Linked DNA regions of Homo sapiens: region 1 is linked to region 2. Evidence: fine-mapped expression QTL. Tissue or cell type: blood mononuclear cells. Region 2 holds a variant in brackets; the other region holds the start of a gene. All regions are shown on one strand. Distances are from middle to middle. Region 1 holds the start of NRN1 (neuritin 1). Region 2 has its middle 24 kb from the start of NRN1.

The links. PIP is the estimated chance that this variant, and not a neighbour inherited with it, causes the effect.
Region 1: NRN1 starts here. The variant in region 2 is fine-mapped to the expression of NRN1 in blood mononuclear cells (TOPMed, PIP above 0.99).

What each region holds. Positions count from the first base shown.
Region 1 is chr6:6,004,247-6,009,614 of GRCh38, forward strand. NRN1 (neuritin 1) reads right to left here and starts at 2,679. Exons shown (of 3, transcript NM_016588.3): 1 at 2,449-2,679. The coding sequence starts at 2,503. RefSeq lists an enhancer at 1-143 and a silencer at 4,610-4,729.
Region 2 is chr6:5,980,501-5,985,873 of GRCh38, forward strand. No RefSeq gene overlaps it. Among named protein-coding and RNA genes, the nearest start is that of NRN1, 24 kb to the right of the region's middle. The variant C/T (reference allele first, on the strand shown) is at 2,630.

The DNA.
Region 1 (5,368 bases), 24 kb after region 2:
AAATCGAACACTGACGTAAAATCTTAAGAATAAACGAATCTTTGTTCTGATAGAGCTCGTTCAAAATGGAAATACACTCCACACATCTTCCTCTATAACGCATGTCACAAATACAGCTTTGCAGAGAAGAAACGAAATAAAATAAAGTCCAATCTCCCCGTCCACGTCTCTCCCCACCCCTTGCCTACACCCCCAAAACTCAGTGGCGAAAGAAGCCCCTAAAATGCATTGACATTTTTTAAGGGGAATTGGGGCTCGCCGGGGGCGGGAGCGCTCTTGTCACGTTATCTTCCCAGGCGCTGCTGGAGAAGACCCTGCACACCGCGCATGTGTGAGTGTGTGCTGTGTAAAATAAGTCGTGAACATTTCTGTCTTTTAAAACTGTGACTCCTTGGACTCTAGCCTTCTCTGGGAGGCCGGGAGGCTGCGCGCGGGACGGATTTTGCAGGCGCACGCGTCCCAGCAGGTCGCAGCCCGTGGGTCCCTCGCTGTCCTTCCTGAACCCCGCTTAGGCGAGACTCTAGCGGGTGACCCTGGCTCCTTCCCTGTCCTCTCTGCCGTCCCCTTCTTGTGCGGTTTCCATCCGTTCATTCATTCGTTCGACCTCTCATTCATTCCGAACTTCCTCCTGCTGCGTCTTCTTTCGTGTTCACCACACTCTTCTACCTCCCCGCCCCTCCCAACCCCCACTTTTCTTGCCAAATGTCAATGATTTGGGACAGCTCCCAGCCGTGAATTAATAAAGACCGAGGTTCTGTTGCAGGAAAGGGCAGACATTAGGGAACAAATACGTTCAATTTCAATTCCACAGTCAACAAATAGTCATTTTTGGACCGAGGTTAATGTGTTCAAAACGCGTCCCTCAGGCACGACCACCGTCTTTTTTTTCCCTCCAAACCTCTCAAAGTAAGGTTATTTCCTACCGGGAAAACAGAGTCCCAAATCTTGTCCGATTAAAATTTCTATCTCAAAAACAACTCTCTCTCCTGCTCTCTAAAAATTCAAAGGTTTATTGCAAAATGCCACATTCACTTATTTCCAACATTTAAGGAATTTGCTGCCATTAGAAATATTATTTACAGCAGCTCTTTTCACTAATGTCAAAGATTCAAAACAACCAGATTTAAAGCATTGTCATTTTTTGGAACTAAAGGAAAACACCAATATCCTGCACTCACACACTCTAAAATCTTTATAATGTTTCTGCATTATAAAATCTCAAAATCATGTCAGTTGCATAAAACCCCACTGCAAAGAATCCATTTTAAGGTCTAGAGAACTCCAAACCTTGTTTCCTTCACATTTCTTATGGAAAAAACATATTATGCATTCTCCTTTCTTGCCCCAAACCAATTACCTAAAGCACCCCCTCCCCCAATACTGCAAGGATTTGTCTGCAAAGAATGCCACAGCCTGAACTGATAGGAGGTAACAATTCCGTTTCAGGAGTTTCTTTTTTCCCCCGTGTTGTCCATTCTATTAATAACCTGCTTCACTTTCACTTTTAGGCCACGTTAATTAATGTTCTGACCCAGTGTCGGAGAAGGGGGTTTTCTAGTGCCCTCTTCTATATCTTTTCTTCATTCTGGATGGTAAAAATGTGAACTTTAAAAAGACCCCTGACAGCGTAACTACAACTCAACATTCCTTAACATAAAATGGGGACTAAATAATTCCTTCCATAACCAATCCCAAACAAACAAAAATAACAAACACCCGACATGACATATTCCAAACACTTCTTAACCCTTTCCTATATATAAAATGCAGACACCAATGTGTAAAGTAGCAGGCAAATGCATCTAGAAAAGTATATCTACGTAAATTTGGCTGAATTCATCCTCTTCAATGGTAAGCATGTTAAAATATGTGGTCTGAAGTTCCCTATCACTCTCGATTTGCCCACCAGCCGGGTCTGCGGTGCCCGTGCAAACGCTGCAGCTAGGATATAGGGGGGAGGAGGGGCGGGAGAATGACAAAGTTCTAAATGCAGCAGTCTGAGCCCTGGAATATCTTTGCTTTCAGCACATAAACTTTCCAGTCCTGGCTGCCTAGCCATTTTATTCCTGCATTCACATTTCGACTCTTCAAAATCATATCTTGCAGTATCGCAGGGGCCAGTACATTGCCCCAGAGCGCACCAAACCTGGTATAAACCCAGAAAGGGAAACAAAAATGGATGTGTGCTCAGGAAAAAGGGGGAAAAAAACCGTGTCCAGAAAATGTCCGGCCGCACACATTTCCTGGCGAACATTTGGAATCTATAGCTTTAGGAAAAACCGATCTGGGACGCGCTAGTCCCCAGGAACTGATGCCCCCACCCTCGGGGGATTGCCGGCTTCTCCGCACCCTGGGGCGGCCGCGGACCCGCTAGTCCCCCTCCGCGCCTCGGGCCGGGGCAGGCTGCCTCCCGCCTCCAGCCTCCAGCCGGGCTGAGCGGCCACTTACCTATTTGCACCGCGAGGATCAGTGAAATATATCTGCCGTTCAACTTAAGTCCCATCCTACGTTTAGTCAAACCATTTGCGACCGCAGACCTTTAAATAGTTAGTTTAGAGAACGCGGGGGAAAGCCAAAAAATAGGCATTGCCAACAAGTTCCGGGAGCGACAGAGACTTTATGCACTGGGAAGGCAGAGGGAGGAGAGAAAGAGAGGGAGCGAGGAAGAGACAGAAAGAGAGAGAGAGAGAGAAAGAGAGAGAGAGAGAGAGGCTGAGGGGGGGGGGAGAGCTGGGAATGGTTCACTCCATTAGAAGGGGGCGGAGGAAGTACAGCCTCACGCCCACGAGCAGGCCTGACGTGGGGGATGACACGGAATGATTTTTTTTTTAATATAGACACCTTGGTAGAGAATCGCCATTTATAGTCATCAGAAGCTGGAATTAATCAGATATCTCCAATTAATGTGCGATCTGAACGAAATTTTGCCTCCCGGGGGTGAGCACTTTCCTATTCTAGCGGTCACCCCTGCCTCTTCCTCGTTCCGGGGGCCCCCCAGCCCCGCCGCCTCCCTGCGCAGAACAGGGGCTCCCCCTCCCTTCCCCGCCAGGAGCTGGGGAGTCCTGGCGCGCCCACTCGATTGTTTCAACCTGCTCCCCCTCCTCCATCAGCACCACAGAGAATCCAGCCCGCTCTCTACGATGCAGGGGGGTTTAAAGGAGCGGGAGAGGGAAAAACAGCTAAGCTAGCTCGATTAATTCGAAAGCGCTCCTCGGCCGCCCGCCCCCTGCGCTTGCCTACCCTCTTTTTCTCCAACCCAGCAGCTGAGCTCTGGGCGCAGCCTGGAGCGCGTGAGCACGCAGCCCGGCCCCCCGCACGAGCACACACACACACACACACACACACACACACAAACGCGCGCGCGCACGCCCGCCAGCCGCGCCGAGCGCCCCCATGCCCGCCCGCACACAAGGCACGCGAGCGCGCGCACACGCCCAGGCCCCGGGGGTTTGGTTTGCACACGTGGGGCCCCAGAAATAAACACCGAATGTCCTCTGAATTTTACCCACCTGCGATGCCCCAGCGGGCCAAAGGCCGCTTCAAGGGACACAGCGACACCTGTTTTAGGGGGCGAGTAGGGCACCGGGGAAGGAGCCTCTGATAAGACAGTTTTCGGATACTAGTGATTTACCAACCAACTCTCAGCGCTTTAGGAAATTTCCAAGGCAAGCGCTGGTGTGCGGACTTCTTTCTAATCTTGATGCGCCTCTTGGGCTTATTTGTTGGGCTACACACACACGTACCCACACGCACACACGTACATCACGTACGCACACGCACACCCGGACCCACACACACCTGCACTGTCTTTTGATGCTCAGGCACAGACCCTGTGTAGGTGTAGCCTACCCTGCAACAAAATACTTCTGCAGCTGGCTTTGTGCTAGGTGCAAGCTGCTATCGACGACAGCTTGAGTCAAAACCGAAAAACTAACAGGGCTATTTCCTTTCTAAACGCCTTTAAGCTCTGGTTTTCTTCCTTTCTTCTGCACCAAACAGAAAAAAAAAAAGTCTAAATTGTAGCGTCTTTAATAAAATGCTAAAGAAGGCATTGGCCAGCTTTAATCCTTAAGCCTGTGGAGAGAAAAAAATGAAAACGACCCCCCAAATTTTGCCAAACTACACTAGAGGACGTCAAGCTGTCAAACTGTAGAAATGCACACGGATTAAGGAGAAGCGTTGAATTTGCTTCTACAGGCAGCTTGCCCTCTAGGGCCAATCTTGCCGTCCCCATACTCAGATATTTGGAGATGCATAGACAAAGGGGGAGAAAGGTGCAAAATAACGGGGGTAGGACAGGCTGTGGAGGGTAGGGGGCCGAGGGGAAGCTGCGGGGGTCCTACTGCAGCACTTGGTGACGTGAGGTGTCTGCAATGTGCGGCCCCTAACTCACGTCCCGCGGGAGCCTCAGACTCCCATGCAGCCTTCCTGGCCCTGGGGGCGGAGTCATGTCTCCCCGCCCCTGGTTATGTCACCGGCCTGCGGGCGGGGCGGTTGGGGGCTCGCCTTCCGGTGTCCAGGGGCACGGTGGCGGCCCCGGGTGTTTCCTTTCCCCGAGCTCGGAGGCTCCGGGAAGAACCGAAAACGTGGGCGGACAAGGGGTGGGGCGGGGGCTGGTGGCGAGAGGGGGGCGTTTCTCGGACCCTCCCCCGACGTCTTCCAATGGCAGGGCGGGAGGCTTTCCGAGGGGCGGGGCCTCAGGGGGGTTGCCACGCGGCCCGGCCCACGGCTCCGCCCCTCGCTCGGGGTTCCGCGTGGGGCCGGCCCAGCTTTCCCGGACCAGGCCACCAGCTGCGGGCCCCCAACCTCGCTCAGACTCGTGCAGAGCCCAGGCTTGGGAGTGGCTTAAGGTTTTTTGCCCTCAACGTCCTTGCCTTCCTCCTGCTTATCCACCTGGGATCTTCACAGCATCATTTTCTGGGATCCTCTCCAACCCCTCCCCTGTAACTCTGAGCGTGGGGCGCTGGGGATGTGGAGTAGGCAGGGCTGAGGGCCTCAATGAAGCGGGTGAACCCACGCGCGTGCGCACAGCCGCCCGCGCCGCGCCCCGGGCCGATCCGGTTCTTGCCCTTGGGACGTGGCTGCGCCTCACCGCCCTACCCCGGGAGGGAACCCCCGCTGACTTTTTCCTCTCTTCATTTTCCTCCCCAGGCGTCCCAACCTCCCTCATAGGCCTGAGTCTTTTTAAAAGTGAAGAAGAGAGAGGCAAACAGAGTTGGTACTCTACATAAATGATTTTCTGGGTAGATAGATGCACATGACATTTTATTTTTTGAAAAATTCTCATCTTTTAAATTACAGGTCGTTCTGCAGTCCAGGCTCCATGCAGGGTTGATTCTTCGTAGTTCTTTAATTAAAGGATATTGCA
Region 2 (5,373 bases):
TCTTTCAACTTTCCTATCATATTTTTCTTTTAACTGATTTTTTTTTTTTGTCTTCCTTCTTGGATCCTTGCAAGGGTGAGCTCTTAATTTGGTCACTGTCATGGACTGGATGTTTGTGATCCCCCAAATGTGTATGTTGAAATCCTGACCCCTAAGGTGATGGTCTTAGGAGGTGGGTTCTTTGCAAGGTGATTAGGTCATGAGAGTGGAGCTCTCATGAAAATGATTAGTGCCCTTATAAAAGAGACCCCAAATATCTCTCTCACTTCTTCCCCTTCTGCCATGTGAGGACACAACAAGAACATTGTCTTAGAATTAGGAAAGTGAGCCTTCACCAGAACCTGACTATGCTGGCCACCCAGGCTGTGGCATGTTTGTCATAGCAGCCCGTACAGACTGAGACTGACACCTTTGTGAGCACATGCATCTCAATGCTGCCAGAACCTTCTTAGAAAATGTGTAGAATGTGTCTCAGAATTGTCCACCCAAGGAACAGAATAGGGGAATATTTACTCACCAGCTTTCCATCACTTTCAAATATAGGTAAGCATTTTAGATGTAACTCAGGGTGAAAAATCCATTTATGTGCTTTGCAAGTTGAAATTCCGTAGTCAGTTGATATATAAATATTTCTTATTATAAAATACTGTATGATTAATTATTCTTGTGGAAACTCTTAATTTTATGTACTAAAACAATTATTAAAGAGCTTTCCAATTAACCAAGCTGATGTATCTGGAGAGTGTAAGTATTTTTTAATGGATACTCGCTGCAAATATGCCCCCATCAGCTGTTCGAGATTAAAGGAGACTAAAGAGGCATGACAGCTACGTGCAATGCATGACACTATTTTGGATCCTGGCTCAGGGAGAAAAAGTTCTATGAGAGACATTATTGGGACACTTTGCAAAATTGGTTTCTCTCTTGTGTTGAGTCTCTTAACCTGAGATTGTTGGCTGTTTCTTTGCAGAGACCTGCAAGGAAACTATGATCCCTAATTAGAGACTCACGAATCATGCAAAGGTTTATCACAGAGAAAAAACTAGGGCTAAATTACTGCCCACAGGAGAGGAGTTTAGAACTACAGGATGATAGTAATGCTTGACACTAATAAATCACTCTGGAAAAGAAGTTTATAAAATCTGGCAGCTCTTAAAAATCAACATGCTATTTATAGAAAAGAATAGGAAAGAGAACTGTGCAACAAAGACTTTTTTTTGCCTCCTTTGAGCCATTTGAATCATCACACTCGCCATATTACTAACTTACACTACTTGTAGCATTCATCCTTTGATGGCAGAGGGCCAAAACATTCTTAGAAAATAGTTAGGAAGGGAGAGGAGTCATCACTTCCTTAGCTTAGGTTCAGAGTTCTGCTGAAAACCACTGTCTCTAGCACTCAATCTGTACTCTTCACCTGACTCCCGGGGAGAAAGTTCTACAGAGAGGAAGCTGGAGCGTAGAACAAGGCCCTTAAACTCACCATGCATTCTGAAATATCCTCTGTAGTAGCATGCATGCTTACTAATTTTTTCACAGTGGACATAGGAATATTAGTACTGTTTGCCTGTTCATTTATATATTAATTAACTCATTTATTCATTCACACGCCTTGATTCATGGTTTCAGAGATCAGTTGTTGAGTTTTCTGTATATATAAAAATCTGCGCTAGCTGCTATAGATATAGACACATACACGAGAGATGGCTTCTGCCTATAAGAAGAAACAGGCAGTAGCTAACTGTCTGAATTCATTCATTCAGCAAATGTTTATTGAGTGTCTACTCTAGATCAGGCAATATTCTAGGAGGTTGTATCCTAGTTGGAGCAGAAAGCTATTAATTAAGCAAATTTAAAAGGTTGTTCCCCTTTATGATTAGTGCTGTGAAGGAAATGAACAAAGTGATGTATGTACCTGCTATGTGTGAGCCATGTAATTACTGTTATTTGACCAAGTGAAGCTTAAAAGATACTCTCTAGTAGAGACATGTAGCGAGATATTAAAGTCAAGCTTGGCCGGGCTTAGTGGCTCATGCCTGTAATCCTAGCACTTTGGGAGGCCCAGGCGGGAGGATTGCTTGAGCACAAGAGTTTGAGACCAGCCTGGGCAACATAGCGAGAACTCATCTCTATAAAAATTTTAAAAATCAGTCAGGTGTGGTGGTGCATACCTGTAGTCCCAGCTACTCAGGAGGCTGAGGTGGGAGGATCACTTGAGCCTGGAAGTTCAAGGCTGCAATGAGCTGTGTTGTGCCACTGCATCCTAGCCTGGGTGACAGAGGGGAACCCTGTCAAAATAAATAAATGAATAAATACAGGAAATCTTCAAAACCTATTTAAGCCACTATGGTTGAGTTATTAAGCAAAATTACCAAATACATCATTGTTCTATGATATAGTTTCTCAACCTTGGCACTACTGACATTTTGGGACAGACAATTATTTGTGGCAAGGGCTGTCCTGTGCATTGTAGGATGCGCGGCAACATGCCTGGCCTCTACTCAGGGATGCCAGTGGCACCCCCTTCTCAGATGTAACAAGCAAAACTGTCTCCAGGCATTACGAAATGTCTCCTGTGGAACACAATTACCTCTGGTTAAGAAACACTGGTGTATGGGGAAAAATGTTC[C/T]GAATGCCAACTAGGGACCCTAGAAATATATATTCTGTCCCTCAATGTCCTCACCCAAGAGTCTCAGAGGGCTTCTTTTCCTCCTTGTTCTTATGTTTTCTGTCTAACCTTAGCCCTGCATCAGATACTTCATTTTCCTCCTCCCGTCAGCTTCCTGGGGGAGAAAGGGCAGGAAAAGCAGCTTCAGGGAAGCTGCTTTCCAACTGGAGCAAGTCAACCCCAAAGACAGGAGAAGTGGGGGACCTGAGTGGTGTTGCCATCACAGGCAAAGTTTGCCTCTTGATTCATTTTGCTAAGGATCCACACCCCCCCAGTCACACTCCACACAGAGCCCTGCGGCGACATTTACTCATGCAGTCATGGGTTCATGTGCCCCATCGCAGGCCATGAAGAACGTGGTTTGTATCAGCTTACTTTCTGCTCTTCTGGATGATTGAGGGCAGCCACATGGGATCCTCTGGAGGTGCCCAGCACTTGCTTCTTGGTCCTATATCGAGGCCTGCTTACTGTTAAGAGCAAAAGAGACCAAGATGTTGGCTGAGCACGGTGGCTCACACCAGCAATTCCAGCATTTTGGAAAGTTGAGGGGGGTGGATCACCTGAAGCTGGGAGTTTGAGACCAGCCTGATCAACATGGAGAAACCCCCTCTCTACTAAAAATACAAAATTAGCTGGGCATAGTGGCACATGCCTGTAATCCCAGCTGCTTGGGAGGCTGAGGCAGGAGAATCGCTTGAACCCAGGAGGCGGAGGTTGTGGTGAGCTGAGATCGAGCCACTGCACTCCAGCCTGGGCCACAGAGCAAGACTCCACCTTCAAAAGAAAGAGACCAAGATGTGAGCTGAGTGGTGAAGATAAAATCTGGATGTGGAACTGTAGTGATGCAAAGGCAGAGGGGAGCAGGGGAGAGGCTGGAGGTGACCACTCAAGACCTTTAGGAGACAGAAAACTGCACAGAAGACTGTCTGCCCAAGGCCTAGGGCCCAGCTTTGCCCAGGGAATCGAAACTTAGAGTATGAAGCAATGTTATAAAGCAATTTTTTTTTAGTTGTGCAAGTGTCAAATGCTGTAAATGAAACAAAATCAGGCAATGTGATAGTGCCTGTTTGCTGGGAGGATTTCCGGGAGAAGGTGGCTATCACTTTACAATGAAAGGTCAGAGAAGGTATCTCCGAAGAGGTGGCATTGAGGTTGAAACAAAATGACAGGAAGGAGCCTTCCACACAAAGACTCTGGGGAGAGGCAGAGGAAATAATGAGTTCAAAGGCATGAAGGCTAAATGAGCGTGGGGCATGCAAGGCAGAGAAACAGCAGGTAAACAGTGGGGTAAGAGAAAAAGGCAGGCCTTGGATCAAGTAGGGAGAGACACATTATAGAAAGAGCAAATGATCCTTACCCTGATGGGCTGTCTCGGCTCTTTGCAGTCCCTCTCAGTAGCAGACACCCACCTGTGCTTGATAGTTTTCACCCTGTTTCATAACATTGCACCTACTCAGAAACCACTGTCTCTTTGTATCTGTGATCACTTAGAGTCCATCAGCTTGGTGCTGACTTTCTTCTCTTCATGTAGACAGCTGTGTTATAAAAGACCCAAAGGGAGAGGGACAAAACCTAAAAAGGCTACTTTGGGGTATATATGAGCTTTGGAATTACCCATCTCCCTGCCAGGAGGTGAGGAGGGAAGAGTTCACAGTTGGCGTGTCCCTTGAGCAAGAGAAGATAACTCGCTCCTGCTGGTTCTGCAAGGTTTCAGCAGTGATGGTTGTTTTGTAGTAGCTCTGAACTTGCCAAGAAAAACACATTGTTTAAAACAAGCCATTCATTTTGAGAAAGGCTATTGTGTAATAATTTCTTTTTCTTCACCCCTTCATCCACAACCACGCAGAGACCATGGTCATCAAAATAATAGGTCTTTTTTATTTTTACTTAGGGGATCCCAATTTTTCTCCTGTGGCTATGAACAAGGGAAAATATAGCAAAGGGAATGCTGATTGGTTTATTATGCAAGTCTGTAGTTGGGATGACTATAAAACAATGAACATTATTTTCATAAACTACATGAAAACCAGTGTCTTATATTAAGCTTACATAATTACAGCTATGTCATTCTTTATGTTCCCATGTCAATGTTCTCTGCTTCAGATGCCCCTCCAAGAGGACAGGAATTGGACCCACTTTGGGTAGCCTTGTACAATGCAACCCAGCACCCAGCAACGTCCTGAAGAGGCTGCTGACTGCTCTGGTCGAAGTGGAGCAGGGCCCTTCCTCCCTCCACTGGAAAGGGTGGGCAAGAAGCATCAGTGCTTCTGGTATTTGACTCAGTGAGACCTAGATATTGCAGATCTGCCATCAAAAATATTTGTAAAGCCGTTTGCACCACTATTATCCTTCTGCTCCTTTTAAAACCTAACAGGCAGGCCCAACTTGGAAACTTCCAAGAATGAAACACCACCTTCAGAAAACGTGGTAATTGATAGAAGAGTCTGGTGCTACTGCATGATGCATTCCATACCCTCTGGGCTCCTCTCTCTAGTTCTTTAACCTAGTCTCTCTCAAGCTATGATGAGAAAGGCACTGATTATTTCAAAATGGTGCAAATCACCTGCTGTTTAAAAAACAAGATAAATCCCCCAAAAACGAAAAAAATGAAGTTGTCAAAGACACTGGAATGAAATTTCTGAAGAACCAATCTTTTCCCACTGTGTTTCTCCATCAAAAGGAAAAGCTAGGCAAGCTTGTTGAAA